Linked DNA regions of Homo sapiens: region 2 is linked to region 1. Evidence: fine-mapped expression QTL. A gene starts in region 1. The other region holds a variant in brackets. All regions are shown on one strand. Distances are from middle to middle.

Region 1 (15,978 bases):
TGATTTTTATAGAGACTTGTCAATTGTTATTGTTAATATTTTGAAGAGCAATTTATCCATATAATACTTAACTGAACTACCATTGTGAACTTACAATATATAGGCAAACAAAGATTCAAAGATTTGAAAGACTCACTTGACCAAACTAAGTAGGAATATTGATGGATGGACATGGTGTCTTCTAGACGATTCCTCTCCTAATCACTGTACCTACATTACTTCCTTTATCAGAGAGTTGGTTACAGAATAGGCATGTTTTCATCTTATACAAAGCAGGTATTTTTGCCCGAACTCCTAAGGTCTCATTCTGTTATATCCTAATCTCATTCAAAGGGGATATAACCATGAAAACTAACGTTAAATTCAGCTTCTGTCAGTGGGAATGTTGTGAAGTAAGTGTTTGTTAAGAGTGAAGCATATTTGCTCCACTTCCAGAAAACCCTTAACAACAATGGGCAAAAAGGTAGTTGATTCTACAATCCTACCAACATTGTGTGAAAAGGAATAGATTATGTAAACTAGCAAACCTTTAACAACAATGGGCAAAAAGGTAGTTTACAATCCTACCAGCATTGTGTGAAAAGGAGTTGATTATGTAAATTAGCTTGATTGGGGTGTCCCATCTTTAAGAAAAGTATTTATTTTCTAGTAGTCTTACAGCACGACAAGTGTAATCTTGGAAAAGCTCAACAAGGAAACTTCAAGGGCAGCAAGAATTTCAGAAAAAAAATAGTGAGTAAGGATAGTTGGTGTCATGTGCTTAAGGTGTCCTTGTCCCAGGATTGTCTAATTGTGCAGGTACCAGCTAAACAGATGTGGGGTGATTAACCATCCACTCCAAGGAACACATGTGGGAAGGTATCCGTCAGTGGAGCAGGTTTGCAAATACACGACACACGAGACTCGCCACTGGCCTTAATGAAGCCTGCATCATTCGGTGCTGAAAGCAAAAGGTGAGGTCTTTTTTTTTTTACCCTCTCTGACTTCTGTAATGCTTCTCTCATGTTCTCTTTAAAAAAGTCATTTTGACCCTTGCTGATCTGTGGAGGCAGAATGCCCAATTAAATTACTTTCATTATAAAAGCACATACAGCCAAATACTTTTTATAGCACACGATTTCAAATTCATAATAAGCATGAAGGAAAAGTAGCACAAAAGCTTTTTAAAATTATATAGAGACTTTTAAACAATTGGTGCTACCAAAAAAGGTCAGAGAGAGTGCCTCACTGTGGAAGGTCCAATTGGCCAAGAAATTATGAAACTGACATTTTAAAATAAGAATACATTTTAATATTCATTCTTTTGGGGTCAGGTGCAGGCTACTCAGAATAACAATTCTGTCCAAATAGAAAATGAAAACCTTCCAGGAATAATTACCTTCAAAGCAGACTATAGCTCTCCATTTAAGAACTGCATTGAAACATGACAGTAACTTACATTTACTGGGTAGGGACTATGTGTCAAGCACATTGTTAGTGCTTTATTTTGATTTTTTTTGATCTTCACAATAACTGTATGGGATAAGTACTATTATTATCACTATAATACACATGAGAAAATTGTGGCTTAGAGCTTAAATGATTTTTGTAAATTTTTGGAGACAGTGAGTGGTGGACCCAGTAACCAAACTAAAAGTTACTAAGTCTAGAAGCTAGTTCTATTGTTAATGGTAGCTTTCCAGAACATTTACGATTTTAAGTTGTATAATTATTAATTTAGGCAAAGAGTATTCAATAAGTACTGCTATCAGGTACTGCTAGATGCTGGGATTGCAATAATGAAATTGTTCTTATTTATTAACAAACACACAGTCTCATCAACACACCATTTCTTGAAGCTGGTTCAATAAGACATTTATTGTCATGTCTAATTTCACAGAAGAAAAGCTAAGCCAGCGGTTGTTAAGGATTTTACATTCAGCAGAAAACAGAATTATTGCCCATTGATTTCAGTCAAGTGTTCTGTACACTAGATATCACCATGCATCTTATAGAGAATCAGACAAGTAATTGCTGAAGCCATTAAAGTCAGTTCTGAGCTCCACAAAACCTGATACAACTACCTGATAACCTCTTTAGGTATAGGAACTACTTTAATATGTTATGCTTAAACCCAGCCACGAGGCAAATGAACATCAGGTTTTTTCAAAGGTAAATCAAGATTAGTCACAATGTAAGAAAATATGGCGGAAAAAAAACTAAATGATCAATAAATAGAATCTAGTTTTGTAACATATGGCACATTAACCTCATAAAATATTATCCATCTACTATTATTTGATTCAAAAGTTCGGTACACATAGGAGTATTATTTTAATGCATGCGTAAAACCTACACAGACTCACAATGCACCAAAATTACATGTTAATGTAACAGCATCTAGACACAAAATAATTAGAATAGCACATGATCTACAATGTGCTAGAACAAAGGTCAATACGCTTTTCAGAAAAGGGCCTTGGCGGTTCCAAAGGCATTGTTGGAATTACTCAGCTCTGCTGTTGTAGTGCACAAGCAGTCATAGACAACATGTAAATGAACGTGCATGGCTGTGTTCCAATACAAATTCTCTTATAAAAACAGGGAATGGGCCAGATTTCACCTGAGGGTTGTGATTTTTCTGATCTCTGTGCTATAATATACAAGTATGGGGCAGTTTAAAGACATTTACACTGGTGTTTTTGTAATATTTTATAATACTGCTTAATAAATTTTAAGAAAAGTCTGTACATCTGCATAATCAAGTTATACATTTGCTCACTTGAATTCAAGCCATTATTTTTACCCAGTCTAAATTATTTTTACCCAAAGCTACCCAAGAAGGTAGCTTTACCTTTTTGAAATAGTTTGCAAATTCCAGACAGACGTCAGGGCAAAGAGTCTTTATAAAGCGTTTAGCTAGACAGCAAAGCTTTCATTACTGTTGGTTAAACAATCCAAAATCCATGACCCGGCCACCAATCAATCAACACGCATTTACAGATTGATGACAAAGTATTCTGCCCTGTTCTAAGCACACTTGTCAGACAGTCTCTCTCCTGTCAAGCAGTTTAAAATCTAATAAATGAGGCAATTATGTTATCTTTATTTATTCAGTGAGACATTTTGGCATAGAAACATCAGGCATGTCCAGCAACTAGAAACAAAAAGTATATCCTGCTGCATACGGTGGAATTACTCTAGTAGATAAAAATATCTTTTCATCGATTTTCAGGAGAAATATATTCAATTTTAATTTGTATATGCAGGCTTTTTACCTGATCTGTTTACTCATTGATAACATAGTATTTTGGGAAAAAATGGTCAGTAATTCACCAATTACAGGTATTTATGTTTCCCAAGCTTCAATTTAACCCTTCTAATGGTAGAAAAAGGACATAATCATTTCATAAAGTATGCTAGCGTTATACTACCAAAACAAAGAAAAATACACTGCCATTATCCTCCAGACAAGAATAAAGCTTACTAAATACTTTTCTAAGTCTAAAATAGGTTGTTGGAGAAGGAAGCAGCAGCTAGATCAAAGATAACACCATCCTAAGGTGCTTAGTCTGTATTGCTAAGTAATAGGAAGAGCAACACAGCTGAGAGTGCACACAGGCATAGCAGAGGGGAATAGTAACAAGATTAAATATAACAATAAGTAACTGGGCTGGGCATGGTGGGGTGGGTCATGACTGTAATTTCAGCACCTTGTGAGGCTGAGGCAGGAGGACCGCTTGAACTGGGAAGTTCAAGACCATATTTAGATGGTAAAACCATAAGGCCTTGGTAGTTGATTAGATGTGGGGGCCAGGGAAGAAAGAGCTGGCAATTAGAATTTCTAGCTTCAATAATTTGGTAAAACATTGGAATATGACACACAGAGACATCAATGGATCACGGGGAGGAAGATGAAGGAGCTCTCTTTCAGGTATATTTGGAATATCTATGTGAAAATAAATGCCCAACTAAAGAATCCTTACCCTAAACATTATCTTATTCTCACATTAGCATTTATTGAGTGTGCTGTATGTATCAGACACTGTGCTAAGCACTTCACCTCTATAATCCCACTGAATCCTCCCAACAGCCCTACTGATATATGCATTTTACACCTAAGGGAAATAGAGTGAGGTTAAGTAAACTTCCAATGCACAAACAATTAAATGGCAAAGCCTGGATTTATTAACTCATAATTCTAAAACTGACTCTTAGCCACTACCATATATGGTGATAAAAAGAAAAAGAAAACAGCTTAATCTGAAGAATACTACAAAGATATTATCACTTTGCCAATATCAGCCCCACAGGTATACTGTTTTGGGCTTTGCCATGAGTCTGCTCAATAAACAACCTAATACAGAGAATTAGACTTACTTCATTTCATTAAGAGCTCAAGAGGCACTTCTGTAAATCTGGGAGGTTTATAAGGGCCAGGATGCGTCCATGCCCTCCTAAGTCAACATTCTTACCAAGTCGACATTGGTCCAGCATCTACAACATGACCAAAAAAGGCAAGGCTTCTGACTTTGGGCCAATATTGACTTGGATGGAAAAAAAAAAGGCAGGTTTGTGGGTTTTTAAGCATATTTGAGAATACCAGAGGCTGTACAGCTTGGCTTCAGTGAATGTCAGCTCAGGGCCAAAATATACCCATTCACAAAATGAAGTTTGTTTCCCTACTTTTTGTGGTGAAAGCCCCTGGAGTTTTGGCAGGCTTCTCAATCTGGCACTCAGTTGAACTGCTGCAGACAGGATGCAAACTTCTACTGGCCTATACTATGAGGCCTCATCTTTAAGTTCTAGAATCCCAAGAGGCTAAATGGTGAGAAGAGGAGGGCCTTAAAACGTATTAGCCCTGGGCCAGTCATGTTGACCCACAGCAACTCCTACTCTAATTCTACACACATCTCATACAATTTGCCCCAAATGATGGGGATTATATTTAATCACCTTATATCCTGCAAATGATCAGTGTGGTGAGACAGAACATATGAAGTACTAAGCAGTGTCTGGCATACAGGAATTTTTCGATATATGGCAGCAATTATTACAGATATTTGTAGTAGTACATTTTAGTAATAGCCATATGGGAGCTTAATAAACATTTGTCTCAGTATTGAATTTGGCAACCCTTATTGACCCATTATTTATTTTGAAAGACAAAGTTGAAACAGTCCAAAATAAGGCAAAATATAATTTGATTCATGTGATCTCTATTAAGATAATATACATTGTTAACCTTTCAAAGAAAAATATTGACAAAACATTGACATTTAAAAATTAAAGCTATAATTAATTATACTTTAGAATGCATTTATTTTTTTCCTTATTTTATCCTTAGAATACCTATAGAAATTACTTAGGCACTGTTTTATCCTTATTGAACAGAATTGTTTCATGTATTTAGCATTTCTGGCAAGTAATTGAGTGCTAGTGCCTGGTGTATAGCTAAATAAATGGACATAGTTACCTCTTATTAATGAAAGCCAGTTTAGATATTATTGACATTCCAACTCAACAGTATTTCTCACCTTACAGAGGTGAAATGAGAGATAGAAAGCAGAGGATACTGAGAAAATTCAAAAGTCTCTATTGGCTCCAAGTGCTAATCTAGGTACAATATATGCATCAACATGGAATTTTTGTACTTTGAGGAAAACGAATTAGTACAGTGATGACATAATCAACCAATTCTAGTTGATTTTTATTTCTCTTTTGATTTTTTATATTCCCTAGTTGATACATGTTCATATTTACCCTGGAATGTGTTAACAATGAAAAAAATAAGTTATAAGAAATATGAGATTCAATAAGGTACAATCATGTTTATGAATGTTCTTAACCATAAATGCATAGCTTGTCCAGGCCAGAAACAATTCAGTTTCTGAATTCAATGCCACTCTTGAATATGTTAACTCAGTTCTAAATGAAATGCATTATTTGTACAAAGTTCTACTTAATATTTAACATAATGAAGATTGTCAATTCCAATACATTTGCACTGCAGAAAATGCATTTGTATTGCTCAGAGTGCTTAATGAGTAATAATGCAATGAAGAAAAACCAAGACTAAGAGATGTGAACTAAAAACCAAAGTCACAACTCCTATAGGCAATGATATTAAGACTAGAACTTAAGTCTTAAGATTTTGTTATTTGTGTCCTTTTACTGTTAAATTGCAAGAGGAAAGTCTTTTTAAGGTAGCAAAAATAATATTTGTGGGGAGGAGACAGCAATAATATCTGTTCATGCAACTAACTAGGTATATGTGAGTGGGTAGGCACATAAGGCCAATGGGCACTGGGAAACATGTCTGTCAGGTTCTTTCTGTTTTGTTAGCTATTGAGTCAACCTGACTGAAACAAAGATGCATTTCACAAGAGTGAAAATTGGTTTCAGTCAATCCCTTTAGCATTTTCCAGGTGACTACATTTTTATAAATCGCCTGACAAAATCAAGCAGTTACATTGCTTCACAGACTTTGGCTGGAACATTAAAGGAACTGAATGATTTATGGAGGAGAAGATCAAATAGGTTGTGTTGTATCTAAATGCCTGTCCCATGAACCAAAAGCTGAATGTGAATTGGCAAATTAATGATTTTTCATTTTCTTCTAGGATTTCATGGTTTGGAATGCCTTGTGTTGAAGGGACACATTTCACCCCTTTTAAAAGTGCATCTTAAAAAAAAGTCACTGTCCTGCAAATCTCCCACATCAGCTCTGATTTCCCTCGCTCACCTGCTGCAATATTTATTTTTTCATGCCACACCATTACATTGCTTTGTTTTGTTTGTATTTTTCTCCAATTGTTTCATGAGTGCCTATGATACACACGAGTGCATATAATCTGAATCAGATTATATAGTAAAGACTTCTTTTGTACTTCTCATACTGTAGAAAGATAATACCTATTGGCTATTCCATGATGAATTTTCTGTGTAGGAATTAATTCAATACATGTTCTTCATTTGTACTGACAATATGTAAAGGACATTTTTGAGTCCTTTTCAATCCTTTAGGAGGGCAGCTCTTCTGTACTTCATTAAAATACAAACTCTTACTTTGATTTACTTTCAGCTCTAAACCTTGTTCTCCCTGTTAATGAAATGCATTTGTATCATGCATGAGATACATACTTCTTATTATGATTTAGAACCTTCCAAAACATTAATGTTGCTCAATAGAATTGCCATACCTAAGATTTAATACCATGCCTATCATTTTCTTGTTTCTCATTCTCTCCATCCTGAAGTACCGGGATTCTCATATAAGTAACTTTGCCTGAGCTTGGGTAAAAGTTGACTCCTAATGTAAGGTGAACTGGAGAAGAACATTTCTTTCACCTCTTTCCCTGATCTTATCTTTTTTATTCAGCATTCCCTCTAAAGAGAATTTCACTCACAGAATTAGAGAGAGACTCTGTACTCTTTTATCGTATCACTTTTAGAAACTAAAACCCATTGGATTTTTTGAGAATTAGGAATCATTATACTGTGCAGAGTTTGGGCTTTTTGACACATTTCCATTCCTTCAATTGAGCACTCCTTTTATTGGATCACTGGAATAAAATCATGATTATTAAACATGTCACAATATACAATTCTCATTTTATAATAATTTATGAAGACCTTGCTTAAATATATGTTCTCAAATCAATTTAAGTTGAGCACATATTAAGCAAAAATAAATTTAAAAATGCATCTTGCCTCTCAACAAAATATTTCCTTGCCTGAGTTGTTCAAACTCCTGCAGATAAAGCATATTTAAATAAAGATAAGGGGCTATCACTTGCTCTTATTTTCATTATATTCAGGAGATGACCACTTTGATTATAAGTAAGAAGACTTAAAAATACTCATGATTTCCAACATGAATTACAGCACTTAAGACTTTGTCTTCTCGTTAAATCATGCTTATTCGTGCATTTTATATAAAAACTCTGGAGAATAACTTAACAGGAAATCTAAAATAAGAAAAAGAAACACTGAAATTCCCCAAATCTCTATAGATAAAACCCTTTAAGGCTTAGGATTAAGCATTTGAAAATATCAGGAGCATTTAAAATATGTTCATGCTTAGCTTTCTGTTCACTTGCTATCTGCAACATGAAAAGTCTGGCGTTGAGTGGCACGAGAGCATTACTGTTTCATTTTGATAATCCAAGTTTAATTTTAATACATCTTTTAATTTTACTTTAATTTAGGTTTTTTTGGGGTTTCAGAGGCAGAGCACTACTTTGTTTCTGACTAAATGACAAAAATCATTAACTGCCAGTGACTATATGAACATGATGTGAACAATATATGCAAAGAAACTAGGGCAAAGTTTTTTGTTTTAGAAAAACATATACTTATATTCTATATATTCTGAATGATCCTCATATAAACAACACAACATACAATATCTCAAAATGTTACTACAACACGGCTCATTACTTTGCAGGTTGCAAACGCAGCGTGTAAATCCTTTCCTCTCAACCATAGTAAGTAAAGACACAGATACAACACGGTTTGCAAGTCTTAGCTCTGCTCTGTAAACTTACTGCTATCATAGGTCTTCTGCATAAGTATTTTTAGTGCCCAGTTCCTAGTTCAGTGCTTAAAAATCCTGCCGATCCCTGGGTTGGAACAAAGCTTTCGGAAGCAATTAACTGCTTTTGCCATCCCAGGTGCCAAACACACACACAATGTCCTTTTATTTGTGGAAATACACACAGATCTATTCTGCATGTGCTCAGAGCTCAACACAAATATCACCCCTTTCCCACAGGCAGCAGGAAGGATGTGGTTTGAAGGACATAGTTGCTTCATCTGAATGTTCAGTTGTTCAAAAGATCTCTTGTTGCTACGCTGAGTTGCGGCTCTACTACCTACGTTTAAGAAGATATAACCAGGCCGTGCCCAAAATCCCACTTTTATCTATTTAAACAGGCATTCAAGTAGATCGTGCAATTCTTTGCCCCTTACCTTCAGTGGACACATGCTGAAAATGTGTTCATAATCAAAAGACATTCCCCAGAGCTGATGACCCAGTAATTCCTTACGTATACAGGTCAGCTGCAACAATACCGTACTAAAATCGCCAGATGAAATGGTCAGAATTACCCGGTGGCTTGATAAAATCAGCTTACTTTGAGTCTAATCCAAGGATAAATATACAGAAAGCTCCAAGCAGTGGAAACTGTAATCACCTTAGAACTGCCCCCTGAAACTGTAATACTGCCAGGAAAACAAATATTTGCTGAATTATAGGGTGCTATATTGGTTTTACCTGAATGCAATTAAGGGCTAAATAACTACAAGCTACTGTTTAAAGTGGACAGGTATAACCAAGAGCAGGGGACTAATTCTGCCAACACCACTAACACCAGTCCCCAAAAACCCTAACGATACACTCAGAACAAGCAAACCAGTAGATCTGATTACCAATTTCACATATCCTGCATTCTTGGAGCTCACCCATTTCATCATTTCCGGACACTCAGACTCTAACTAGGAACACCTAACTCATAGCCCTGTATTTTGCTAAGTTTTTCCTCTACTCTTGAGTCCTCCTTTAATCTATAGAGTGTTATTCTACACTGGACCTCTCTCTTATTTTTTGGAGTCTAGCATCTTGCATCTTCCTGGAGCCCCAACTAAACTCATAACTTCTAAGCTTCTAAGAAATATGTAAGTTTTTCAACTCTGTACATTAAGTCTTTTTGTGACCTTAAACTTACCTTAGAAAAAGATGTACTGTTAGTTACCAACTGCTTCTTCAGCCTTGCGTATAATGCCTGTTCCTCTTTATGACTCCCCTTCAAACTTACTAGCTCATGAGGATCTGTAATTTAAGAAAAGAGCTTTGGCAACAGGGTAGTTAAATTGCTACTAGTGGTTACTTCTGAATGACTTCAAGTTGATTCTTTCCTTGTGTTTTCTTCAATCACTTCTTATTTTTACTAATCAGTGTCACTATGTGTGAGCTATGACACTCCTTAGAACTATGCAAGTAGGCTTCAAAAAAAAAAGAATGGAAATTTGATGAAAATGTTTTACTGCTAACACTCAGCTAGAAATACCACCTCTGAAAAAGTGTACAAAACTCCATGTACCAGGTGGAATATTACTCCTGACCCAGAGTATTATATAAACATCTGTATTTTCTTCCCCAATTAGAAACAAATAGCTCTTGATGAAATGTCTGTGCCCTGGTCCTTCAGAAGTCAGTATCTGACTCTAAGATGCCAGGAAAATTTCACCTTGTGTCATGTTTCACGCTGAGGAGTTTGTATAGCGCTAGTGTAAACCTTGGTCTCTAAGACACATTCCATGGTGAATTTATTTCAAATTCCAAACTGAGTTTATTCCATTTCACTCACTTAAAATTCCAGTTGTGATTGGAAAATATACACTTCATTTACCTTCTGCGCAGTGTTCAATGAACCGCTTGTCATGTTTCACCCTAGTAGGTTGCATTTCAATCCTGAGTGTGTCTGTGTAGCAGCTGATTAAAGCTTTGCTATTATTTGTAAGGGATGTTATAACATGCACTGTCATCTTTCTTGGCATTTTTTGAAACGGTAACATGAGGATTCTGGCAAAATAATATGGTAGTTGCTACTCTTTCCTTACACCTATACCATTTACTTGTCAGTAAACAAAATCATGTTTTCAATGAAGTAGACAAATAGAAAACTCAGCTTCCCTATCCTGTTGTATCTTGTGCCACTCTCTATAAACTGACATGGCATAAAATGACATAGCTTGATAAACTGCTGGAGTCAAACACAGATTACTGCCATTTAGCTAGAGCAGGACACGTCACTTGAGGACACGGCCCCAAGGAATGTCAGTTCTAGAGGAGGAAGGATAGAACCGAAATGAGGGATCTGGTTCTTTGTTGTGTGTGGCTGAATTTCCCGGACATTGTTTAAGGCAGAAATGACAGGTAGCATAAAAGAGCAAACCTTACCTTAAGAAAGCAGATTATATAAGCACCCCCCTTGAATCCCAAATTCCTGCCACACTAGGACTTTACCACATAGGTTATTGCTCAGATCTGATGAAATGTTAACTCCAATCCGTAACCAACTGATAACAACCAAAAACCACATTAGTCATTATTTACTAAGATAACAACGATAAAAATCATGTGTGTGTGTGTGTGTGCGTGTGTGTCTTTCCTTGAGTTCTGTATCAGGATTTTATAATGCTGAGAGAGTTGTCTATTAAGAAACATGTTTCAACTTTATTCCAAAGAAATGGTCCCCACTACTCTCTGTGAAACTGTTAATGTCCAGCATGGCTCTTGTTATCAACAGGATCTATTCTATGCTTTCCTGGTACCAGCATAATTAAGTCAACAAAACTGGTTGCTTTCAAAGCCAATAACTATTCAAGGCTACTTCCTCTGCAAGGGCACAGTTTTAATACACCCATAAGCCTTATTCAGGATCTCAATCTTTTGCAGTTGAAAAATGAATCCAAGAACACCGTTAGAGAAGCTCACAATTCAACTCAGATCTTACATTTGAACTTTTTCTTTTTTGGAAAATGTACTCATGGTAACTTTATTCATGCAAAAAAAAAAACTGGAAGTGATTGAGAACATTTGTTTTTCTGGCATTGAGGACATTTCAATTATTGTCCCTTAATATGTCATCTCATAACTATTATCTGGAACAAGTATTCTTCAAATATGCCATATGGATGGTTAAAATCAAAACAAACTATTAATAACAAATCTAAACAAAGCCAAACAACCAAATACACATACAAATAAACCAAATGAACCCTCCTGTACATTCTCATTTTGTCAGAGAGCTACATCCCCGCTCCCCTTGAGCTACGTTTGGGCCCCTCCCTTCTTCTAGCAAGGTTTTTTAAAGTTTAGGTTCTTCTTTCCTTTCCCTTCTTCTCCCTTCTCCTCTTCCTCTTCTTTTTTTAATTCTATTTTAGGACCCACTGGTTAGCTTTCCTTATTACCAAATTAAAAATATTATTTATTCACTCTCTTGCAAAAAAAGGCTCTTTTGAGAGTCACACTGTTTAGCTGTAAACATCATTTCTCCCTGTGAATGGCTGGAGTCCCAGTGAAGCCTTCTACATTTAACAAAGGCTTTGGTACATGGCTTAAAGTCTTAATATCCAACCCAAGATCCTGGATGACGTCAATGCCCTTTTCGATTATCAACCAGCACCTGCTTTATAGCTCCCTATTATTCACTACAATAGTCTTTTTGAACCTCCACTCTGCTTCAGCCAGTCACAATCATGGAGACCCCAAACTTGGCCACCTCTATACTTGTTCACTCTGTGAAGTTATTCTCTAAACAGCGCCAACCAACTTTTCAACTCTACCGACTTTGTATTTCCACTCCATCAGTTCTACAACCTCATTCATATCTCAAATCCCCTAAAAGTATCACTTTCTTTACTTCTAAAAGCTCCCTTTGGCTCTACTTTCTTCTCTCTTTAACCTAGACATCATAGCCTATCACTTCAAACATCCTCCTGTTAGTACCCACTTCTCGTTTGAATTCTTGTCGTCCCTCCACATTTTCCTCCAGAATTTCAACCCAAGATCAATGCAATTATTTTATGTCTGTTTTCATACACCTGGGTTGCTACATTCTGGTTAACTTCATGTGACTCTGCAGAATGGTACTGGTACAAAGCCCTGGTCTTCAACATCACTAGGACTTCAACACTGTCCAAATTTCCTTCCACATCTCCTTTTCTTTCAAGCTTTAACTGTTTCTTCCAATCCAACAGTATGTACAAACTGCCACTTCCTCACTCTCAGCAAAGCCCTCCTGTCCTAATTTACAGGTAAAATAGCCTGTGAAGTGAGAATTAACTCAATGTCCTTTCCTCCCTATGAACTGATTCCAGCCTAACTCTTTGCCACCCAACTCATTAGAAGAGATATCTTTTCTCTTATCCAAAACTAATCTTCCCACTTTTACTCTGGATCCTACCTTCCTCCCTCTTTATCTGTTTTATTAGCAATCCCACTTCTCACACAAACCTTCAACCTCTCCCATCCCATTGGTTTCTATGTGGTGGTGCACTGGAGCTGATAGCTAATTGTAGGTATCTTCTCAAATCTGCATTCAATAAGGTATTCTGAATGCCTTCTGCATTCTTCCATGATAGTTTTACTCCAGCCATGGTGACGGTATTTACGCCATGGTCATCTGTAATAGCTACAAATTAGAGCTTTTATTTCTCCTCTGGAGGCCTGGTTTATCAGAACACCACTGCACACACGCCTTCTCAAAACAAAACAAATAAAATCATTGACAAAAATTCTGGTGCATAGCCTATTTCCTCTTCTAGTTATAGTGCCCTCTGTCCTTTTATGTTCTAACTACTTAAAATATGTAGTGTGTACCCAATCATTTGCTCTTAACCAATTTAAATATGCCTTTAATTCTTAACAGTTCTTCATTGAAGTTGATATTTCCAAGGTAATCAGTAACTCATAGTTGATAAACCTAATGGGTCCTTCTCAGTTTTTACTCACTTAATCTGTGGTATTTGATATTGTTAGCCACTCCCATCTTATAATTCACTCTTTCTCTGGCTTCAGGACATCATCATTCCCTGAATTCCCCCTTACCTCCATGGTCTTTTCTTTTCTGGGTTCTTTTCATTTGTCTACCTTTTAGCAAGTTTTTCCACAGTACTCTTTCTCAGCTTAAACTATTGGCAAAATCTTCATCCCATGCAATGCCATGTCTCTCTCACATCTCTCTCACATGCTGTAGTTACCACTGTACAACTGTCCACTTAGGTCATTCAAGACATCAGGCATCTAAAATCCCCAAACTCATCAAATTTTGCCTCCTTCCTTGTCACCTCACCTACTCTGGTTCTCCTGCCCCTCAGTCTATTCTTCACAACTGAGCTGAGCTAATATTTTCTAGGCACAATTCTGATTGTATCACCCCTGGCTTAAAACACTTGAATTTCTTCCCTACCTCTTCAGCTACTTCTGCAGCCTCATTTTCCACTAGGCTTTCCCTTCCTGCTGTGTTATGTGTTTGTGCAAATTCTGTCCTTTCTGTCTCCTCCCCGTCCTGTGCCTGTGCACCCTTCTACCGCAGGGCCTTGGCACAAGCTGTCTTCTGCCTCTGCTCATCCCTCCTCACCCAAGTAACTCTGATTTACCTTTCGGGTCTCAGCTTAACTGGACCTTCCAAGAAGAAACGTCCCCTGAGCATTCTTGATGAGCTCACATCTCACTATCAGGTGCTCTCAGAGCACTCTCCACTGCCACCTTTTATCTGAAGCATTGTGAGTTAGGTGCAGTATCAGAAGAGCAGCTTTTTGTTTATAAAATTGCTAACACCTGTTTCTCTCTTTAGATGACGAGCTCCATGAGGGCCAAGGCTCTCCATTCTTGTTCACCACTGCACACTCAGGAGCTCATGGCATGCTGGCTGTGCTAGTTCTGTGAGTATTTATTGAATTAATGAATGAAGATCCTGGAAATTTCCAGAAGTTCTTCAGATGGGAAAACTAATAGAAGGCTGGGTTTCCCGCAGGCAAGCAAAAAGCAGTTTTAAGTCTAAGAACTAAGGCCTTGAGAGACATCTTCTAATTTTGTAAGCATTGCTGGTTAGGCATACACAGATGAATTACCCAAATGATATGAAAGAAATCTGCCGTATTAACATCATGTCTGGTTTAAAGAACAGGGCTTAAAACCTTAAAGAGGTACATACATTTCTCTGGGCTTATGTTTTGTCCCTCGTCCATAAAACAATTTAATGGAACACCGTTTTTTATACTTAAATAAGGTGATCACACAATTTATCATCCAGACTAAGGCATGTTTGTTAGTGAAAGAGAGTAATCATAATTGTGCCTCAGCAACAGAGGTAAACTGCAGAGGTCTCCAGCAAACTGGGACAAGTGGTCACCCCAGCTGTGGCTGACATAACAGTATGATATAGGGAAATGCAAAATTCTCTGTCCATGGAGATCTGTGATGGGAGCTATAGAATAACTAAGCCCAACATAGAGGGATGCTTCTCATCAATGTGATGTTGGTGTTTGTGCAAATTGTAGAAGAAGCAATGCATCTTCAATAATGCAGTAAACAGAATAAGATTACAGTTGCATTCAGCATTTTACATTTTATTTGGAGCTTGTTCTGTTTATTATTTTATTTTGTTCCCCTCAACATACCTATTTTAATTCCTCAAAAAGCCTTTGATGAGCAATGGGCCAGGCACAATTGTGATGGAAAGGAAGAACAAGATATCAACCATCCCTAGAGAATCGACAGTATAATTACAGAGCAAATAGTGTCATCCATAATTACAGATTAAGGAATGGACACCCAGAACTCAGAAATGACTTGGTTAAGGGTGTGTAGATAATAAACAGTATAACTGGAACTGCAATTCAGATCTCTGACTTCCAATTCGGAATTCACTTTATTTTGCTCAGCTGCCTCCCACTTAATGTACTTAATGTACTTTATGCTCTTGTCTTCTACCGCACAGAAATGCCCATGAAGTACGTTGACACAGTCTTTGCAGAAGCAGATTGTGCCCGGGCTTAGCGGGCAGTGTTTGTGTTGCCCGTGTGGACTTCCTTTTTAGGCGCTGGCTTCTGGCCCTGTGTCAGGGATTGGAAGGGGATTTAAAAGGCCAAGCACATCTCTGATTAACTTGTCGCTGTATCATACCTATGTTTAAATCCTGGGTAAATTAAAAGGACAAAAATATGTCTTTTTACTTCATGATCAAATTCCACTGCAGAGGAGTAATGAAATAGTCCAGATATGGTCAGGGGATAACCCTGGGGATAACAGACCATCTCTACTCCATAAAATGTGGGTATTTGTCCATGATGAAACATTGGACCTTTTCATTAAAGAGAAACACTATTTATTAGTGCTTTGGGGTTTACAAAATACAGTCTTTACCGAATAGATTTATTACTGTTCTCAGATTTCTAAGGGAAACAGCTTTTAAGATTGCAATGCAAGTA
Region 2 (15,978 bases), 25 kb after region 1:
TTTCTCAATTTGTGTTACAATTTGATTAAACAATTTTTACCCTAAAGCTTTGAGAACAGGTTTTCTGACAATTGTATAATTTGATTTTAATGCTTATGTCAGAGGGCATATGTCTTGGGGAAAGGATAAAAGAAAATAACAGATTGCTAGGTGACAGTCATCAACTGTTTGCCTTCATGAATTTCTTGATTTGTATGGTAGTCATTTCCCACGCTTCTCCTCAAAACAAAATAAAATCAGAATAATAACATTAATCTTTTATGTTTTCCTTTACTTGGCAACTCCCAAATGTGACGGAACCTGGAATTGACTCACATTTTGCTTTTTTGTCCACAGACACAGCAATAGTGAAAGCTGAATCATTCAGCTCAGAGGATTTTAGTGTGTGAGGACATGCAATCTCCAGACAACTTAGGAACTTCCTCTGTTACCTGAGGAACAAGAAATTGATGTGAACTTGTAAGATAATTGAGCAAAAAAGAATTTCCCAGGAGAATAGAAGTATGGCTTATCAATGTTCCTCTCTTTTTAGAACATCAAGCCCACTGCCATAAAGCCTAAAGTTGGGGGGCCTAATCAATATATTTCTGGGGTGGTGATACTACTTTGAATTAATTTTAACAATATCTGACATGGGAGAGTGGAATAGCAGTCTGTGGGATTTGTGAAGCACTTAAAAATATTATCAATTTGCACATGGTATCTATTATAGATTATAGATGTTGCTAAAATAAATATACTATGAATCAGGACACACAAAGAAAGTTACCTGTAACAGGCTACTTTCTTTGAATGGGAATTCAGGTCTGCACAGAAATATATAACTAAGTGAATTAAATTTGTTTCTTAAAATCGTATTACCTGGTGGCACATGCCTATAATCCTAGCTACTCAGGAAGCTGAGGCATGAGACTCACTTGAACCCAGGAGGCAGAGGCTGCAGTGAGCTGAGATCGCGCCACTGCGCTCACTCCAGCCTGGGCAACAGAGTGAGACTCTGTCTGAAGAAAAAGAAAAAAGCAAAGTGAGAGGTGAATTTTCTTTTTGTAAATGGTAGACATTAAGTTAATATGCCAGACAGAAACTTTCTGCAAGCTATTATAATACTAAAGTTTTTATTTGGGAAGGGAAGAAGACAATGCTTACCTTCCTAGACTTACAAGTGAAATGAACATTTGTGAAAGTTAGCTCAGAGTAGCACCCAGAGGGAGATTACTTAGCAAACAGAAGAAGTTGTGTACAGTGTTTGCAAAACCAGAACTTACAGCAGCATCCTCCCTTGATATAAATGCCAGAACTGAATCCAAAACACCCATGTTTTGGGGGCAAGTAGGCAGCTCTTCAGAAATACTGTTAGAATAACTGGGTATAGGTTAATTACCCCAAAATGTTATCCTCAACTTGAAATTCCAAGATCAGTGACGAATTTAAGTACTACCTTCCTTTAAAAGGTAAATAAGTCAACCAAAGAGCAGCAACATTCACCAAGCATCAACCATCTGTTTAATGCTATTTGAGGAAAAACGGTTTCTACCAAAGCATTGAATGAAATTGCTTCTCCTCGAGGAAACTTCCCTGCAGCCCAGAAGAAGAAGCTTGACATGACTAGAACTATAAAGTGATAATATTAATAGAAAAATTATTATCTAGACATTAGGAGTTGACTTAGAGTGATTAACATAAACAAAAGCAAATAAATTACATGGAGAAAAGAGGTTGAAATCTGGCCTTTAAAGAGTAGATAAGATTTGGATAGTTGATAAGGAGAGTGAGGAATATTCCAGATGGAAGGAATAGCATGAGCGAGGAATGGGGTGAGAAGGAGCAAACATACCTACGGCGATCGGAGTCCAGGCTGCATAGAACAATGGGTGGGTTAGGAAGGAATGAGATGACTGAGGCCATGCACTCTACACAGAGGGATCTGCATTTCTAACTGGAGTCTATTAAAAGATCAGGAGCAGAAGAGACGTGATGAATGTGATATTTTAGGAAAATGATCAGGCAATGTTATGCAGGATGGATGAGAACGTGAGAGGTAAGAGCCAGATAGCTGAGCTAGGTAATTACTGGCACAACTCTAGGCCTAATTTGATGAGGGACAGCTGTCAATCATGACAACAAGGAGGAGAACTTGACAGTCATTTTAAGGACAGATCTTGCACACCTTGGTGACAATTCTTGGTGAATGAGGAAAGATTCAAAGAAGAGAAAGAAGCATGGAGGACCCAGTGGGAAACGGAAAGGTTTTCAGCGCCATGCCTCTGGGCACCCCTCTGTCTGGTCTTGCTCATTAGTTTATCAGTACATGCTAGAGAGAGAAGGCTGTCTGAAGACCACACAATCCCGTGAAGAACTGGTAGAACGAGGACCAAAAAGTCCTCAAAATTCTGCCTAGTTGAACTGACTTTAGGAAGATGATGGTCAGTGGTACTATGTGCAGAGTTCTATGCTTAGGTTCAAAAAATTAACTGCACAAGTAAAAGAGTGGAGAACTTTAGTCAACTGGATTGCCAATCAGTCAGAAAATGTCTTAGGAACTTTAGTTATTATTAAGAAGACAACTGAAGGGTAAATAAAAGTAAAGGGTAGAAACAGCTGATAAAAGCGTCACACAGGTTTTAATCATTAGTGGAATATAGTTAGGATAAGGGAGATGGTAGCTCTTTTCCTCCAGGCTGTTCACATCATATCTACAGTACGGGTCCAGTCAAGGGAGCTGCCCTTTCAAATGAGATCAGGCACATTCAGGGTGGTATGATAGACAGGAGCTGCCCTTTCACACACAAATTACAAACTGGAACACTTCCCAAAGCCGCTAGGTAACTTAGATAAGGAAACACTTCTTAAGTAAGAAAACAGGAGGAGTGTGCCAAACTAAAGAAATAACGTCCCACACATCTTTCTTAATTTTCCTCCCAAACACTCAAGGACCAAAAACGAGTCTGCGGGCTACAGGTGCATGACTGTCTCTAATAGGAATATGCCCATTAAGATGCCAGTGGGACTTAAAGGCATATGCTGCAGGGGACAGGGGATGAACTGAGAATGTTTACCTAGGAAAAGGCTTGTTTGATAGCGCTTTTCAAAGTTCTGAGGGGTTATCAAGTGAAAGTGGAATTAGATTTGTTCTTCATGATCCTGTCAGAGGGCAGTACCAGCATTAATGCATAGAAGTTTCAGAGTTTGGGACTTGCTTTTTAGGGCAATTTTCCAATGGTCAAAGATGAATATCTGTAAATTAGACTGACTTGTGAAATAGTGAGCTCCTTGTCACTGAACGTACTCATGCTGACATTAAATGGATACCTGCTGAAGATGTTATAGACGGAATGGCATATATTAGATGGGATGTGAGGTTGATAGCCCCAAGATCCTTTTGAAAGCTGAGATTCTAACATTATATCACACCCAGTTCTCAGGAATGGCGGAATAAAAGGGAACACTGGTACCTCGATAGAAAGGTATACAAGTTGATGAGCAAAGAGTCCAGTAGTTGTTACTTAGTATTTCTTTTATGAGGATCTGTTTATCAGATATCACCTTTCTTCCATGAAAAAAAATTAATTAAATATCTGAAGGCATAGGAATTCAGGTTTCTTTTTTCCTTCCAGAGTGATGGAAAATGAATCCTGCTGAATAGAATGAAAATTAAGACTAGAAAAAAAGTAAAGACAACAGAAAATAAACCTAATTTTCTTCCCTATTTTCTTAAGGGTGTTATCAAATATAGTTCGGATAGTCTAACTAATAATTTAGAGAGTTTTGGTCACAGTTTCAGGTTCAATGCTGTTAGGTTTCAGAGATATGTTTTCCTTATTCTTTTGGGTATGCAATTTGTTATAACCAATTTGTAAACATTTAGTCAGTGTTTCCATGTTTCATCAAATAATTCCACTTCTGAGAATTTATACAAAGGAAGTAATGTGGAATACACAAAAATACTTTATGTATGAAGACATACATCCTAATTTTATTGTTATGAACAATCAGAAATAATTAAACAACACATGATATAGCCACTTGTCTTAGTCTGCTCAAGCTACAGATCGGGTGACTTAAGCAAGAGAAATTTATCTCTCATGGCTCGAGTCTGGGAAGTCCAAGATCAAGATGCTAGACCATTCAATTCCTGGTGAGGGTTCTCGTCACTTGGCAAATACAGCTGCCTTCTCAACACATTTTCACATGACCTCTTCTTTGTGCAAGTGTGAAGGAAAAGACAAAGAGAGATAGCTATCTCTTCTTATAAGGGCTCTAATCCCTTATAAGAGGGCATTGAACCAAGGCACTAATCCTATTGGACCTCATCTAAGGGTAATCACCTCCCCAAACTCCCCTCTCCAAATACCATCACACTGGGAGTTACGCTTCAACATATGTGTTTTGGAGGAATACAACTCAGTCCATAATACTACTCAAAAATGAGTTTTGCAAAACTATGTAGTAAAACAGAACATACTTTTAATACATGAAATAAGAATACAGAAACAACACATGCAATATTATTAAAATCATGGTGAGAAAAACTTAGAAAAAAAAACTCTTCAAAGAAAAATGCCAATATGTTAACTGTGGTTGACTCAGTATGACAAACTATGAAGGTCTCATTTTTTTCTTCTTTTTAAAACTCTTTACTTTCCAGGTTTTAATAAAAATGTATATACAGTTTTAGAATTATGCTGAAAGAAGTAAGTGTGTGAGAACATACCTGCATGTCAACTCATCAAGAAGAACTGATTCAGAGACTATTCTATTACTTTTGAAGTGCAAGTGGGTCTGTGAGGCAAGAAGGACACAGACAATGCAGATCCTGGTCATGTGGAGGGATGGCACCTGTATACCTTGGTCAGAGCTCAGAGGACACATGGTTGGCCCTCAGTAAGCGTTTATTAAACTCAATGTTTCTGCAGTAAGACAGCAGCTGGATACTCTGGGTGACCATGGGAAAATCAGCCTTTGATATTTGGAAGAATTGACTTTTGCCAAAAGTGTATATGCTTGATTGGAAGTATGTTATTAATACATTTATTGTATCTGAAATGCTATGCACTGCTGATCAATTTAATAGTCTTACGGTGTTAAGTATTTTACTTCCAGAAAATGAGAAATGTAATTGATTCACTTTCACTCTTTGTAGATGAAGTGTTTGAGTAGAATTCTAGAATGTCAAGATATCAGATATGCATGTTCCTGCCTTTTGAGAGGTCCACAATTGTAAATCAAATTCCTGCAGCATCTAAAGAATAAATCTGCTTTAAACTTGTAAGCTCCTTTCCTATATGCTATTCAAGTACTCTAATATTTCCTTGTAGACTAATGACTTAGAAATAATGACCTTTGAGAAGGAAATAGGAGAGTGATTTCTCAAGATTTGAAATAATCTAGTCTTAATTATGTAGTAATGTCAAGTATAGACATCACAGCATTCATAATACCTGTCACGGTACACAGTTTTACAAAATAATAATTACCTTTTAATGCCTGTTTTTAGAAAACGAATTTAACAAACTTGGCTTGTCAGTTCTTTCTCAGAATCTCTTTTTAAAAATTGCTCCTGTGTATGAATAATTCTTCATTCTGTCTGCATAAAGCCAGAGACATGAAATTTAGTCACCTTTCCACCCTTACTTTTCTATGCTGCCAGCTCTCTCTCATCATCTACCAGGACAGTGGTTTTTGATGCCACAAGTATGAAGAAAATGATTCAGGGAATTGTTTTCTTTCCTATTTTACTTTTATTTTTTGAAGAAAGAACTGGAAGGTGGTTTCTATGTGTACCTCTAGACCTCTCTACAAACCACTCTGGAGACAATCCTGCCAGCAAAGTGGCCAAATACTATGGGAGGCAATGGGGAAACCACTGTAACTCTACCCTAAGCAAGGCCACAGGTTTTAGCTCTTCGGCCTTTGGAGTAGTGGAGCAATTCTCAGTTCTTTTTAAAACTACTGTAGTTTTAAATGTCTGTTGCCTCCCTCTCTCTTATGTGTCTTGAATTCTTCCTCCTTTGCTGGATGTCGGTTCTTAGGGACTGGTTTCTCTGCACTCAAACCCATCTCCTTTCTATCCTTGCCATCTATGAGCCTTGATTTTCCCTGATATCATTTTTTGCTCAAATGCTTCTCCTTCTGAAACATGCTAAATGGTGATTTTATTTGGGTAGTTTACTGTATGACATTGTATTAGTCAGTGACTGGGCAATTTACAAAAGAAAGAGGTTTAATTGGACTTCCACGTAGTTGGGGAAGCCTCACAATCATGGTGGAAGGCAAGGAGGAGCAAGTCACGTGGCATGGATAGCAGCAGGAAAAGAGAGAGCTTGTGCGGGGAAACTTGCCTTTATAAAACCATCAGATCTCACGAGACTCATTCACTATCATGAGAACAGCATGGGAAAGACCTGCCCCCATGATTCAATTACCTCCCACCAGGTCCCTCCCACAACACGTGGGAATTCAAGATGAGATTTGGGTGGGGACACAGCCAAACCATATCAGACATGTTGCCATATTGATATTACTTGCATATTTACTTTACTTCATGTTTACAAGAAATCTGGGAGATTTTGAGGGGCCAGTGACTAAAATAATCATCCTTAGTTCCCTGTGCTTACTATAGTTATTCCCTGAAACACAATAAAGACTTAAGCTTGTGTTATAAGCTTTGGTGATAAAAAACCAACCTTGGGCTACCAAAAATTTTTAAAGTACTATTAATGAACAGTTTTTTTCCCTTACAGTGGTCATAATTAGAGGGAACGAAAAGGATTTTATTTAGATGACTGCTGGTTTTTGTTTTTGTCCTGAGGCTTCTCTGTATATTCTGAGCTTTTATAGCAAACGTGTATTATTCAGTTAATAGAAAAACTAAATGTCATCAAGATGAAAATAAAAGACATTTTTGACACATAATTCATATTACTCTGAGTCTGCACAAATGCCAGCTACATAAATGTGCCAGTATGCTACTGAATCTGTGTACTTTAAAGGAGATAATATTAATTATTTATTTAATGCTGGCTACCTGTCAGGCTCATCTGTAGGTGCTTTCCATGTATTTTATTGTTCAAACTGTACTTTGGCCCTGGGAAGTGGGTGTTTTCATAGGTCTCATTTTAAAGATGAGGAAGTTGAAACTCACACAGTTTAAGGATCTTACCCTAAGTCATCAAGCATGTAAAAATGACAGGTGAGTGATGAACCCTAGGAGAAAGGCACCAGTGTCCACGCTTCAGCCAAGACATCTACACTGTCACTCAGATGACAGCGCAAATTTTTATAGTACTTTACAGTTTACAAAAGGCAGCACTTTTTATAGCACATGATAGTTTACAAAAGATAGCACTTTTTGCCTTGATATAAGATTTCTTGGCAAGTCACGGAACAGGTATAAGATTTTTGATATAAGATATCCTGACAAGCCATAGGACAGCTATCACTATTTCCATCTTAATGATGCAGAAACTGGAGTTTAGGGAGGTTAAATGTCCCACCCAAGGCCAGGCATTTAGCAAACAACAAAGTTAAGACCAGAAATCATGTCTTACGACTTCAAGCCCTGGCTTACATGTTCTCTGTATTGTAATTAACAGTTATAGGAGAGAATATGTCAGTACATACATGAAAAGGTGATGTTTAACACAGAGATAATGCTACTATATATAACAATGCGTATACAGGTAATCCATTCACTAAAACAAAGGGGAAAAATCAAGATAAATACTTTTGAAGTACTTAGTGCACATGAATTGTGCAAATTTTTGAGCGTATTCCCCAAACAAGTAAAGTTAAATAACTGTGTAAGTCTAGTTCAAAATCTCATTATAGAATAGCAAACCAGCAATATTTCAAAACTAATGAAAATTTTTTTTTCTGGCTCTTAAAAACAATTGTTTAAATGAGTTTCCTTTCCTTTTCCTTTCCTCTAATTATGAGTACTCTGAGGGAAAAATCAGTTTATATAAATATAATAATATTTTTAAAAATCCTTATAGCATAACTTTGCATTTTTATCACTGAAGCTCATAAACTGAACTTGAGCTTTTATTGTTTCCCAGGGAATGACTATAGCTGAACACAGACAAATAAGGAGGATGGTTTTAATCACTGGCCCCTCAAGATCTCCCAGATTTCTTGTGAAAGTGAAGCAAAATAAATATGCAAGTAATATCAATGTGCCAACATATCTAAGCAGTAAGCTAAA[T/G]TTTCCTAAATAACAATCTACAAAATAAAATTTTAATTTGTTAGTACTGTGTATATAGTAAGAAACTATACAAAATATTAAAAAATAAGATGGTATTTTCTGTATAAAAATTGTATGGCCGGGCACAGTGGCTCACACCTGTAATCCCAGCACTTTGGGAGGCGGAGGCGGGTGGATCACGAGGTCAGGAGACAGACACCATCCTGGCCAACATGGTGAAACCCCGTCTCTACTAAAAATACAAAAACTTAGCTGGGTGTGGTGGCATGCGCCTGTAGTCCCAGCTACTCAGGAGGCTGAGGCAGAAGAATCTCTTGAACCCGGGAGGCAGAGGTTGCAGCGAGCTGAGATGGCGCCACTGCATTCCAGCTGGGCAACAGAGCGAGACTCCGTCTCAAAAAAATAAAATTGTATACAGAAAAGAGTAAAACATTTCAATAATCAGTTCCATCTTTCCTTGCATCATTTCTATGGTTCATTTTTTGGTCTGCAGCATAGACACCAATGAAAAATAAATACACGACTCTACAAGGTTAAAAAAAAGACTGATAAAAATAAAAGTGTAGCCTGTATTAAAACAACCTGTACATATTATTAATATTTTAAAATAAAAGATACTGATTTTTGTTTATATTGAAAATGCAGATTAAGATTAGTGTGATAATTTTAGGATATTGTTTATCTTAAAATACAAAGGATGACTCCATTTTTATTCAATTCAATTTTCATATGCCCACCAATGGGCAAGGAAATGGAACATTTTAATCCCTTTGATTTTTAAGCTCTGATCCTTAAGGTAAAAATGAAATACAATATTTTTAAATCAGAAGAAGGGAAATCATCTCTACTGTTATACACCAAACAGCCAAAAAATATTAATTCACCATGATGCAAGAGTGAATTCACATTTCATAAGCACTTTCTGCCAAATAATGTCTAAGACCTTTCCTTATTTTTTGGAACGTTAAGCCTTGTTTTAAAGATTCAGAACTTAGAGGGTTCATTTGCCCAAGGCCACTGTGTGGAAGCAGAGGCATAATCATATGCCTGAAATGGATGAGCTCCCTAGAACCTGTGACAAATTATTTGTGTTTTCACAGTGAGGCAGAGAAGGATCTTGCATTCATTGTTGACTTCATGCCTCAAGATACTGTGAAATTGTCTTCATTACAATCATAAGTTTTTAGGTTTGTATCGATCATCTAATTCTTTATGAATAAAACAAGTTCGAGAGGTGGAAGAGCTCAATTATTTTTGACATATGTAAATATGCTCTAACTAGGTTATATATTTTGGAGTGCTTATTTTTGTCTTTAATTCTCTTAAGCTCCATAGATATCTAACGGTCTGAAGCCTGCATATCATACAAACAGCATAATGCTCACGGCACCCCAATACACAGTATCTAATAGATGAATTATTGCTATATGAAAAGGGATTGGAAATCATCTTTCTGAAATATGGCTTTCTGTCATTCATATATTAGCCAGAGGCTAACATATCTTTTATTCATATTGGAAAAATAAGCCCTATCAGGTATGAAATTGAAGGAAACCCTACACATTTATCTCCTAATCTAATATCACCAAAGCATTAAATGAATCCAAATTAAAGGATATTCCTGCATTTCACTTGCATGGCATATCCAAAGTGTCTTTTCACTCTAATAAGACACGGTCAAACTATGGGCTGACCTCAGCCTTTCCTACCACCCTCACCTTGCCCCCACTATCTTGGGTTTTCCCACTTCTCACCTCTACAGAGACAATTACAAGGAAAGGCTATCCAATTTCTAAGGTTTCTTCTAATTAAACCAATTCAAAAATAATATAATTATGACAGTCAAGAAGCAAACTTGCCTCTAAATATTAGTCCGCTTGGGCTGCCATAACAAAATGCCACTGGATGCCTTAAACAACAGACATTTATTTTTCAGAGTTCTAGAGGCTGGGAAGTTCAAGACCAAGATTTCAGCCAATTTGGTTTCTGGTTAGGGCTCTCTTCCTTGGCTTGCAGAATGCCACCTTCTCATATGGTCTTTGCATGAGAAGAGAGAGAGAGAGAGATCCTACCCTTATGGCCTCATTTATGCTTTATTACCTCCTAAAACCCATATCTCCAAATACAGTTGCATTGGGGGTTGGGGCTTTAATGCAGAAATTTGGGGAGTTTCAAAATTCAGACCATGATACTCTGAAGAGTCTAAGAATTACTAGAACTTCATGAACAAAAAGGGGATGGAGAGAGTCTACTTTGAACTGTGTAGCCATGATTTTGTAGAGAGCCAAAGGTAACAATTACCATACTTCTCCTTCAAAGCAGTGTGAAGGAAATATGCAGGAAGCACAGGCGTGCATGAACACAGAGCAGGGATACAAACACTGCACGTGATCTGGTTTCTTACTCCTAAATGCACTTAAGATGTACACTTACAAAGTACATGAACAAAATTCATAGAAACTGTTGGAAAAATTAAAGAATCAACGTAAGGTCAGAATGTACTGAAGCCAAAACAAACAGATGAAAAAATCTGTCTTCTCTTTAGCCAGGTCCTTTGAACAATTAAATGCTACAATTTTCTTTAAGTCTCACTCCTGCAATTTCCCAAGTTTCACCATGGAGAAACTGTTCCCTTACTCCAGTGTAAAGCCTTTACATTGGTGGTTGCTGTCTGTTTTTTTCCTTACAGGAAGAACAAACGGTATCAGCATCTTCTCTCAAGTAGCTCTTCCTGAGTTCAAAGATCATTGAATTTCCTATTGGCAAGCACTTCAGTTTTCATAACTTTTCCTGCCTTTTGTTAGGTTATTAATTTTTGTGATTATCCTGCAAACCCTCTTCAAATTGTCCATGTTCCTCTTGAGTAATGGAACCAATTTACTCATTAGAGTCTAATCAGGTTTGAGTATAACAGCAGGATTACCTTGTGGTCCTTTCATGTTATTTTTGAAAATAGATGACAATATTTCAAAACAGTGAGACACACAGTCCCTTCTTTAACCTCAGCTGCTATTTCTTACTCAAGGAGAGTTCATTTAAAAAAATAACTAACCACAGATTTTTAATTATTGTTGATACAGAAATCTCTCTGAGCAGATTTAAACTCCAATGTGTTGATTCTTGGACCTTAGTTCATGTAAACTTTATAGATACTCTGCCCCATCAAAAAGCCTGGTCCATCCATATACAAAGTTCATAGGAAGATGAGGTGTATCATCATGAACAAGGCCAGGTCCTTCAAAAAACACATGCCTAAATGTATCTCCCAGCCTGACTGATACCAGCCTGTTACTATTTATCTGGAAGATATTACTGTTTTGCTCAAGATGCCTAAGAGCAAGACCCTTTCTTAGATATGGAGGAAGGAAACCGGAGTAGATTTCTGGAAAGGAGTCTCGAGGAAACTGATGTAAGACACTGGTGACATTTAAAATCGCTAATTCATTTTGAGATCATCCCCTGGGGTCTCTTGCCCCAGGATCCTTATCAAAACACTAAAATAAGTACTCTTTGATTTCATGACTTCACAGTTGATCTTTCCAGACATTTAGTCTTTAGGGGGGATTCTCAAATGGTGTGTCCTTTGGAGCTTGTAAGCCTTGAGTCTAAAGCAGACATCCTATTTCACATCAAAATATGGAGACAGACATTTAATTCACTATTTATGTATATATCTAAATTAGGAGACATTAGCACGACTGAGGAAAAAAAGGTTAATAACACATAAAACATTTAGAGTTCATTTAAATTTATGAGTGGCTGTTTTCTCCGTAGGAACAATATATAACATTTAAAACTGATGAATAACTATATGATAAGATCTCCAGATAGGCGTGAGGGCCACAGCTTCATATAATTCTAATCTGTCTTCAGGTAACAGCTTGATAGTTACTCTCGCAAGTTGACATTTTGTTTAAACTGAATACATAGACTATATTATCGATGTGTCTTGGCTAAATGATGAAAAGCTTGTAGCTTCTGACCTTTAAAATATTTTCTTTCTTTTTTTTTTGTAGGAATCAGGAAAATGTTCTAACAACATGTTGAGTGAGGTAAAATTCTTTGAGCAAACACCAAGGCAGAACCATAATATTTGTAAAAATTACTCTCACAACCCAACCATTGCAAGTTCTTCACTGCACTTACCAGTATCTCTTTTTATATGTCTGAAGGGATCCTGCAAGTTTCAAATAAAAGCCAGCTGCTTCCTGAAAATCTTAAATTTGCCCTTGAAGCCCATCACTGCCCAGCTCTCACTCTGTGACCATGGGGGTCTGGTGACCTGAATGGGACTGCTCCTGGATTCCCCCAGCAGCAGGAAGAGCTCAGCTCATGACGCCTCCCATTAGAGTCCAGCAAAATTTCCTGAGTGATATAAGGTCTTTGCTTCCCTTGGTCCAGCCTAGAGACCAATAGCTAATGGTTACAGCTAACCAAAGGTATCTGCTGTTCTGCTACCCGCAGCTGGGGTCCAAACATCAACATCACTTCAACCTCAAATCCTTTGCCATTGCTCATTAACCCACTGGATCCTGTCTCCTCAGATCACTATATATACATTTAGGTACTTTGTTACAAGCAGATGAATCAGAAATATATATATATATAAAATTTTTCAGCCACTACATATCACACAAACATCCTGAATTTCTTGGAATACTAACAAAAACAACCATATGCAGCTCTTTTAAATGATGATCTTTTCCCAAGCAGAGAAGAAAATTATTGTGAATTTCCATATAAGGGGTAAATTTTGACAAATATAGTCCTATTTTTAAGTAATTTTTTTTTCTTAAGATGAGAAAGTAATTTGTGTTAAATATGCTCAATTTATGTTAATGTAGCCCCTTTTCTTGGTGATTATTTTGCCTAGCTGGGATTCATTTAGAAATTTCAGGGCCGGGTGCAGTGGCTTACACCTGTAATCCCAGCACTTTGGGAGGCTATGGCGGGCTGATCATGAGGTCAGGAGATCGAGACCATCCTGGCCAACGTGGTGAAACCCGTCTCTACTAAAAAACTAAAATTAAATTTAAAAATTAGCTGGGCGTGGTGGTGCACGCCTGTAGCCCCAGCTACTCGGGATACTGAGGCAGGAGAATTGCTTGAACCTGGGAGGCGGAGGTTGCAGTGAGTCGAGATCCCGTCACTCCAGCCTGGTGACAGAGAGACTCTGTCTCTAAAATAAAATAAAATAAATGAAAAGAAATTTCAAGTATTATATCTCCAAAAACTTGCTCTCATACAAAGTTGGAGAAATAAATTGAAATGTGAATCCATGAAATTCTGGATGGTATGGCAGAAGGAGAATGTATTGCCTTTGAAGAAAAGGAGAACTCCACCCAACAACTCTCTCTGTCTCTCTCTCTCTCTCTCTCTGTGTCTCTCTCTCTGTCTCTCTCTCTCTGTTTTAGTGTCAAGTGATCCTTTAAGCGTGTTCTGGGATGTTATGGGCTCAGAAGCATGGGCAGTCCTAGAGTTCTTACCTCCTCTCACTCCATGTGATCTCCCTGGGCAATCTTGCCTCTTCCCAGGCTTTGAATTGGCATAAAATAACATGGTATATTCCCAAATCTCCCCTAATTGGACAGCTGCTGACTGAAATCCGTACCCTGGACACGGAATATCTACATGTGTATCCTAGTACTTTACACCTTCCTCTACCAGAATATAACCTCCACAAAGGCACAGGCTTTTCCGTTTTATTTGCTGTGTTAGCATCAATGCCTAAAAGAATGTTTGGCACAGAATATGCAGTCAATAGATATCCCGCTGTTAGGATCTCTGAGAAAGAGAAAGCAAACTCTCTGAAGACGTAGTGCAAAGTTGTGGAAGTAAACGAAATCCCTCCTCCAACATAAGTTGAATACATTTGAGGCATAACTGTATGTTTTCTAATGTGCAGCAATATTAAAAATCTATTTCACAAACGCTGCTATTTTGTAATCCTTTTAACTCTTATTAAAAAATACTTTAGAGAAATTTATATTTTTATTCATTTTTTCATTCCTTTATGTAAGCAACATTTAGCCTAAATTTGAATGTCAGTCTTTCTGCGTGCACAAAGGAAGTACTCAAAGCTAAGGCAACATTGGTTCCTTATCCTCCTGCATCTTACATTTTTGACATTTCAATATAGAATCCTTCTCTGAAAAAAAAGTAAACTGAGAAAAATCTCATCCTATATTTTTCAACAAAAAAGATTAGTGATTATTAACATTAAAACAAATCACATTTTTACTCTAATTGTTATTGAAAACTCCCATAGAAAGGGTTAGAGAATTTGTAAATAAATGTAGTAGTATTGTATTAGAAAGAAGGTAGTATACTTTAATTACCATCTTTAATTTTTGAATCTTTGAATAGCAATCTTTAATTATGACTTAATCAATGGTGAATTTATCATAATACTGCAAGCCAAAGTCATATACACTTTCATTGTATATGAAAAGCAAGGAAATAAATAAGATTGCAGGGCAAGTTTAACTATCCTAAGAATACAAAATGACTTAAAATAATTTAGAAATGTATATTATATATACATATATAAATATATAATATATAAAAATAAAATATATAAATATATATATTATATAATATATATTATATTGAATAATGTATTATATATAATATTGTATATTATATTGAATAGTGTATTATATATTATATTGAATAATGTATTATATATAATATTATATATTATATTGAATAATGTATTATATATAATATTATATATTATATTGCATAACATATAATATTATATATTATACCGAGTAATATATTATATATATTATGTATTATACTGAGTAATATATTATGTATAATATATTATATTATATGGAGTAATATATAATATCATATAATATATGTTATATAAATAAATGGGAATATATGTAAATATTATATATTGTATTAAACATATATAATATATATTATAGTATATTGAATAATATATAATATATAATATAATATATTTATAAATATGATATGTAAATATATTTATATATATTTATATACATATTTATATTTATATATTTAAAACCCAAAACAATGCTTTCAAATTAACGGGAATATATATGCACACACACACAAACACACACAAATATCTATACGTACATATATATAAAATACCCACATATACATATATATGTGTATATATGTATTATATATTATTTAATAATAGATTATATAATACATATATGTGCATGTGTTTTATATATAATACATGTGTATGTGTATGTGTATATTATATATATGTATTTTTTTCCTTCTGCAAATAGATCAGTGAAAAACCTTGCAATATATTAAAAGAAAAAGTAACAAAGTATCAAAACTCCCAATTTTTTTCAGGCTGGCAACTACCTTAAGAGCAGTTTTGTGTATTAATGTGAAGCATCAGTATTCATGACACATTTAAGAGCAGTCGTATTTGATGGTGGTAAGAACATACATCCATGCATCACTTAGCGACATTAACATGTTCTAAGAAATGTGTCATTAGGTAATTTCATTATTGTGTGGACATCATAGAGGGTACTCACACAAACCTAGATGGCATAGTTTACTACATACCTAGGTTATATGGGATAGCCCATTGCTCCTAGGCTACAAACCTATGCAACATATTACTATACTGAGTATTGTAGGCAATTGTAACACAATGGTATTTGTGCTATCTAAACATATCTGAACATAGAAACAGTAGTTATTATGTTATGGGAGCACTGTTCTATTGTGGTCTGCCTTTGACTGAAGCATCATTATGCAGCACGTGG

Direction of the effects. Alleles are on the strand shown, and positions count from the first base shown. SD is a standard deviation of normalised expression in the study named.
As copies of G replace T in region 2, the expression in Th1/17 cells of the gene that starts at base 9,488 in region 1 goes down (large effect, 0.92 SD a copy in Schmiedel 2018).

Evidence for each region. PIP is the estimated chance that this variant, and not a neighbour inherited with it, causes the effect. A credible set is the group of variants that fine-mapping cannot tell apart.
Region 2: its variant is the best candidate, but not a certain one, in a credible set for the expression of CHRM3-AS2 in Th1/17 cells (Schmiedel 2018, PIP 0.56).

Annotation. Positions count from the first base shown.
Region 1 is chr1:239,712,629-239,728,606 of GRCh38, reverse strand. CHRM3-AS2 (CHRM3 antisense RNA 2) reads left to right here and starts at 9,488. Exons shown (of 3, transcript NR_103776.1): 1 at 9,488-9,657; 2 at 14,343-14,430. The region is part of intron 5 of CHRM3 (cholinergic receptor muscarinic 3); the gene reads right to left.
Region 2 is chr1:239,687,651-239,703,628 of GRCh38, reverse strand. All of the region lies in intron 5 of CHRM3 (cholinergic receptor muscarinic 3), which reads right to left. Among named protein-coding and RNA genes, the nearest start is that of CHRM3-AS2, 23 kb to the left of the region's middle. The variant T/G (reference allele first, on the strand shown) is at 8,204.